2 separate regions of the Homo sapiens genome follow, and region 1 is linked to region 2. The links come from fine-mapping of genetic effects on gene expression. A gene starts in region 2. The other region holds a variant in brackets. All regions are shown on one strand. Distances are between the middles of the regions. Region 1 overlaps LINC02395 (long intergenic non-protein coding RNA 2395). Region 2 holds the start of LINC02395 (long intergenic non-protein coding RNA 2395).

Region 1 (2,909 bases), 8.6 kb after region 2:
AACTCCTGGCCTCAAGCGATCCTCCCACCTCAGCCTCCCAAAGCACTGGGATTACAGGCATGAGCCACTGTGCCTTAAGGCTCTTTTATTTATTTATTTATTTTTGAGATAGGATCTCACTCTGTCACCCAGGCTGGAGTGCAGTGGCGGGATCTTGGCTCACTGCAACCTCTGCCTCCCAGGTTCAAGCAATTATTGTGCCTCAGCCTCCCAAGTAGCTGGGATCACGGATGTGCACCACCATGTCCAGCTAATTTTTGTGTTTTTAGTAGAGACGGGGTTTCACCATGTTTGCCAGGTTGGTCTCAAACTCCTGACATCATGTGATCTGCCTGCCTCAGGCTCCCAAAGTGCTGGGATCACAGGCGTGAGCCACCGCGCCCGGCCTTAAGTCTCTTTTAAATTATAGGTCCCCTTTTTCTCTTTTTCCACCCTTACAATGTATTTGTTGAGGAAACCAGGTCATTTTTGCTGTAGAATTTCCCAGAGTCTGGAGTTTGATTGCATCCCTAAATCTAGAGGCTTGAAAATCCTATAGTTTTCAAAATAATGAGCGAGTTCCCTAGCATCTCTGAAAGTGATCATTAATTTTTATCATAAACTTATGGATTTACATACATTTGAAATGTTTCAACACATTGCCATTATAGTTAGGGTATTTTGTTTTTCTTTTTTGTCTAGATGGAGTCTTGCTCTGTCATCCAGGCTGGAGTACAATGGCGCAATCTCGGCTCACTGCAACCTCTGCCTCCTGGGTTCAAGCAATTCTCCTGCCTCAGCCTCCCGAGTAGCTGAGATTACAGGCACCCGCCACCACACCCGGCTAACTTTTTGTATTTTTAGTAGAGACGGGGTTTCACCATGTTGCCCAGGCTGGTCTCGAACTCCTGACCTCATGATCTGCCCACCTCGGCCTCCCAAAGTGCTGGAATTACAGCTGTGAGCCATTGCGCCCAGCCAGTTAGGATATTTTTTAAAAATTGTTTTTCCAGCTTAAGTTTAGGGAGTAAGGGTGATTACAAGGGACAACATAGAAAAATTGAGAGAACTCTGGCTTTGGAGGCAAACAACCCGTGGGTGGAATCCTGGCTCCACCACTTACAAGCTGGATGGCTTTGGTCAAGTTACTTCACTTCTCTTTCCTTCTATTTCCCCACCCCCCGATAAGGAAATGATTAATAATAACTAACATTTCCTGAGTGCTTACTGTCTTCCAGGCATCGTGCTCAGCGTCTTAAAGACATGATGGCAATTTAATCCTCCTATCAGTTCAGTGAAGCAGGAGTCGTTATTATTGTCCCCACTTTAGAGATGAGGAAGAAACTGAAGCACAGGTGGTTGAGCAATTTGTCCAAGGTTACACACCTAGAAAGGGGCGCGGCAGGGACCTGAACCGGGGCAGTCTGACTCCACAGCCCACTGTCCTCTAGCGGTTGTTGTGGAGAAGAGAGAGGGTGATGGTGATGCCCTCCTGCAGGCCCTGATAGATGGGAAGACCAGGCCAGAAGG[T/C]GAGCAGGGCCGTCCCTGGCACTTCCCCTCAGGGATGGAGCACAGTCAAGCCTGGCGTGTGGGGGGTGCAACCCCTATTGCAGCTGCAGTCTCTCCCCTTCCCCAGACTCCCCCCTCACCTGCTGTGACCCAGACCCTTGCATAAGAACACAGCTGTTCTTGGTGAGTTCTGTTTCCATTGCCATTATGGTTCTCCTCCTAATTGTTTCATTAATCAGAAAGGGCTGATCAATGCTGGGAGGCCAAGGTGGGAGGATTGCTTAAGGCCAGGAGTTCAGCCTGGGCAACGTAGTGAGACCCTTCACCTCTACCCCCGCCTCTACCAAAAATTAAATAAATACAATTAGCTAGGCGTGGTGGCACATGCCTGTGGTTCCAGCTACTCAGGAGGCTGAGGAGGGAGGATTGCTTGAACCCAGGAGGTCAGGGCTGCAGTGAGCTGTGTTCTTACCACTGCACTCCAGCTTGTGTGACAGAGCAAAATCCTCTTGTAGTTGTGGGTGGGGGGGCGGTAGGCAGGGTGCAGGGAAAGAGAGAGAGAAGGAAGGAAGGAAGGGAGAAAGAGAGAGACAGAGAAAAAGAAAGAAGAAAGGAAAAGAAAGAAAGAAGAAAGGAAAGAAAGAAAGAGACGGAGAGAGGAAAGAAGGAAGGAAAAAAAGGAAGGAAGGAAGGAAAGAGGGAGAGAGAGAAACAGAGAAAAAGAAAGAAGAAAAAGAAAGAAAGAAAGAAAGAAAGAAAAAGAAAGAAAGAAAGGAAAAGAAAAGAAAGGAAAAGGAAGGAAGGCGGGAGGAAAGAAGGAAAAAAGGAAGGGAGGGAGGGAGGGAAAGAGAGAGAAAGGGCTGACTGCAGGAAATCTCCCCATCCCCATGCTTCTCCAGAATCAGCTGGCCTGGGGGGTCCTTGGGTCACCTTAGAGGGCAGAGATCCTGAGTGCAGTTGGGCAGAGTGAGGTATTGATAGGAACACTAAGGATAGTACTAACAGTCATCATTTACACCTCGTGTGTGCCAGGAAGGGGCCAGGTCCCACATGATCTCAGTTCATCTTTACAACACCCTGAAGGATGGTCTTGTTATCTTCTCCATTTTGCAGATGAGGAAACTGAGGCTGAGAGGGTAGAGAACTTTGCCTGAGGTCACTCAGCAGGTAGGTGGTGGAGCCAGGGGTGTAACCCGGGCTGCGGGCCTCCACATCAGATACAGACAGAACAGGAAGGTGTTGCAGAGGCTGGCGATGCTGCGATTCTCTGGGTAGCAAAGGGAGGGGACATTCCCAGCAGAAGGAACGGTTTGTGTAAAGGTGTGGAGGTGTGATACGGTGTGGCCTGTTCAGGGTGGTGACTAACAGTGGCCAGAGTGAAGGGTGTGTAGAGAGGAGTGCCAGCAGATGAGGCAAGGGGC
Region 2 (2,909 bases):
CTCTCTGCTGCAGTCCTACTCCTGCCTCCCCATGCCCCTCACACTGTGCCTCTCCAGATATGGTCTCCAAAACGCGGGACAAGAAGCCGAAGCCTCGGGCAGGCATCGGCATTCTGAGTCGCCATGCTTCCCAGCTGCAGGAATTGCTGGGTCAGGTGTGAAACCACATTTCTGTCCCTCCTCATCTCTGTCTCACCTCCCCTGCTCCCCACACCTGGGCTTTGCTGGGAGTTGGGGCTGAGGCTGGAGCAGTCCTCACTGAGCACAGAAGAGCCAGGCCCCAGGCTTGTCATCCCAGCCTCACATTCCAAAACTCTCAGCCGCATCAGCTCACTCCTTGGTAGGCCTGGCACAGGCCCTCTGCACGTTAGAATAACACAAAAAAATCAAGTTTTCAGGTAACTAAAGTTCTAGGCCAGGCTTAGCCCCTCCCTTGCAGCAGGCCCTCGAAAAGTCAGTTCTTTCCCCAGGGTCTCACGGGTTCTGTTGCCATCGCATGTGCCGCTATGTGCATACATTTCCGTTTCTCCACCAGATGGAAAGTGCCTTAAAGATATGGGTTGTGTATCTCAAGCCTTCCTGCTCCATCCCTTGACCTGGTAGAGTTCAATATTGAAGAATACAGGGTTTGGGGTCAGATCAATCTGGGTGCCAATTCTGACTCTCCCAGTTACTAGATGATTGACCTTAGGTAAATCTGAGCCTCAGTTTCCTCATCTTTACAATGGGTATCCATGAACTGATTTACTTATTCAAACAATATTTATGAGGGCCAACTCCATGTCAAACACTGATGTGTGTACAACAGTGACCACAACAGACACAAATCCCGGCCCTGTGGGGTTACTTCTTAGTGGAGACTATTGGTGCCTGGCCCAGAGAGTGATTGTGAAAACTCAGTGAGATGACATTTGGACAGGGCTCAGCACATACGTCATATGTCAGCCTGGCATACGACAGGCCTGACAAGTTAGAGCCATTATTGTGAACATCCATTCTGAACCACAGAACCATTTGCTGAGAATTTACTGTGTGCCGGCACCATGCTAGGTGCTAGGGAGACAAAGACGTGGAACTCTCATCCACACCCTCAAGGAACTTATAGTCGAATGCACCTACCGAATGTCAAATGCCACCATCCTCATCATTGTTCAGAAGCTTATAACCAGCACCAACTTGTATTACATGCAACAAAGAACCATGACATTCTAGAATGTCAGGTACAACAGAGACAGCTGTTTGTCCCCCAGTATCCTTCAGACAAAGCCATATATGATTGAAGGTTATCAGTACTGTGCTTTTGGAGGATTCAGAAGAAGTTATATCTGATTGGGAGATTGAAAAGGATTGGCCTGAAGGAGAGGTGGTTTTTGAACTGCATCTTAAAGGGTAGGCTTCAACAGACAAGAGACAGTGATGTTGGGGGAGGAGAATGAGGCCCTGCAGGGGACCAGAATGGTGTGCAAATGAAGGCGTGGAGGAAGGAAAACATGAGGCGCCAACTTTGAGCTGAATCCTAGGAAGAAGGTGGCCTAGCCCAGAGTGAGGTTGGAGGCTGATCCAGGCAAAGCAGCTGTATTCACAGGGACAGGAGGCAACTGTCTAAGAGGTGGGGTTTGAGGGACCCCCTTCCCAGCCGTCTACCCTTGGCCGAGACTATAACAGGCTCAATATTCCACCACTAAAAATTCATTTCCTTGAGTAAGCCTCCAGTAGGAGACAGACCATCCCCAGAGGAATAACATGAAAGGATAAGTCTGGGCCAAGGAGGGAGTGATGAGGAAAAGACAGCTGGGAACAGCGGAGAGCCAGGCGGGGCCAGGGGCCAGAGCCCTCAACTTGCCAGGCCTCTTGCATTACCCTACTTGTCCAGGCCATCCATACTGACAGAGCACTGCTCGGCTGTGGGAGGCAGGACTGGGTCACTGGAAAGGGGTGGGCAGGTGTCGGTGCTGTGTCCATGACCTCCCTTTGCCTGGCCAGGGCTCCTCAGCCCTTCCTGCTCTGCCTGCGGGACGTGGGCAGGGCCACGTCCACACAGCAATGCCATTTTTCAGTGCAGTTTGGCCCGGCAGCAGTGTGGGTCACTCCTTGTGTGCTTGGGTGGGGACCAGAACTCATTTATTCAACCAAGTGTTTCCAGCCCAGCCTGAGAGTCATGTCGTGAGCTAGGAGAGCAGAAGCAAGCAAGAGACCCCCTCCCCGCCCTCCAGGAGCTCACAGTCTAGAGGGGGAAGCAGGTCTTAAGTAAATAGCCACATGCTGGAGTGCAGAATCACACATGGCGAGTGCCTCAAAGCCAAAGCCCAAGCTGCCTTGTGGAAGAATAACAGGGCAGTAATGCAGATGGGTGGAGGAGCACGTCCGGGGGAGGCCTCCAGCAGCCCCGAGTGATGAGGTGGGGTTGGCGAGGGGATGAGTGTTCTAAACAGAGGGAACACCTGTGCAAAGGCTGTAAGATGGGGAAGTACCTGGGGCATCAGGCAGATCATGCCAGCCTTGTGGACAGGGGAGGGCTTTGGGAAGTTACAGAGTAAGGGAGGTTGAAGGGGTGGGCACCCACTCAGATTGGCCATTTAATTAATTAATTAATTTATTTATTCATTTATTTTGAGACAGTCTCACTCTGTCACCCATGCTGGAGCTGAAGTACAGTGGTACGATCTCAGCTCAGTTCAACCTCCGCCTCCTGGGTTCAAGCAATTCTTGTGGCTCAGCCTCCCGAGTACCTAGGATTGCAGGCATGCACACCATGCCCAGCTAATTTTTGTATTTTTAGTAGAGACAGGGTTTCACCATGTTGCCCAAGCTGGTCTGGAACTCCTGACCTTAAGTGATCCACCTGCCTCAGCCTCCCAAAGTGCTGAGATTACAGGTGTGAGCCACCGCATCCAGCCCAGATTGGCCAT

The links.
Region 1: its variant is fine-mapped to the expression of LINC02395 in nasal epithelium (TOPMed, PIP above 0.99).

The regions. Positions count from the first base shown.
Region 1 is chr12:49,919,325-49,922,233 of GRCh38, forward strand. LINC02395 (long intergenic non-protein coding RNA 2395) reads left to right here. Exons shown (of 6, transcript NR_110048.1): 2 at 2,602-2,909. Among named protein-coding and RNA genes, the nearest start is that of LINC02395, 8.8 kb to the left of the region's middle. The variant T/C (reference allele first, on the strand shown) is at 1,510.
Region 2 is chr12:49,910,695-49,913,603 of GRCh38, forward strand. It overlaps LINC02395 (long intergenic non-protein coding RNA 2395), which reads left to right and starts at 1,259. Exons shown (of 6, transcript NR_110048.1): 1 at 1,259-1,389. LINC02396 (long intergenic non-protein coding RNA 2396) reads right to left here and starts at 1,169. Exons shown (of 2, transcript NR_146570.1): 1 at 1,120-1,169.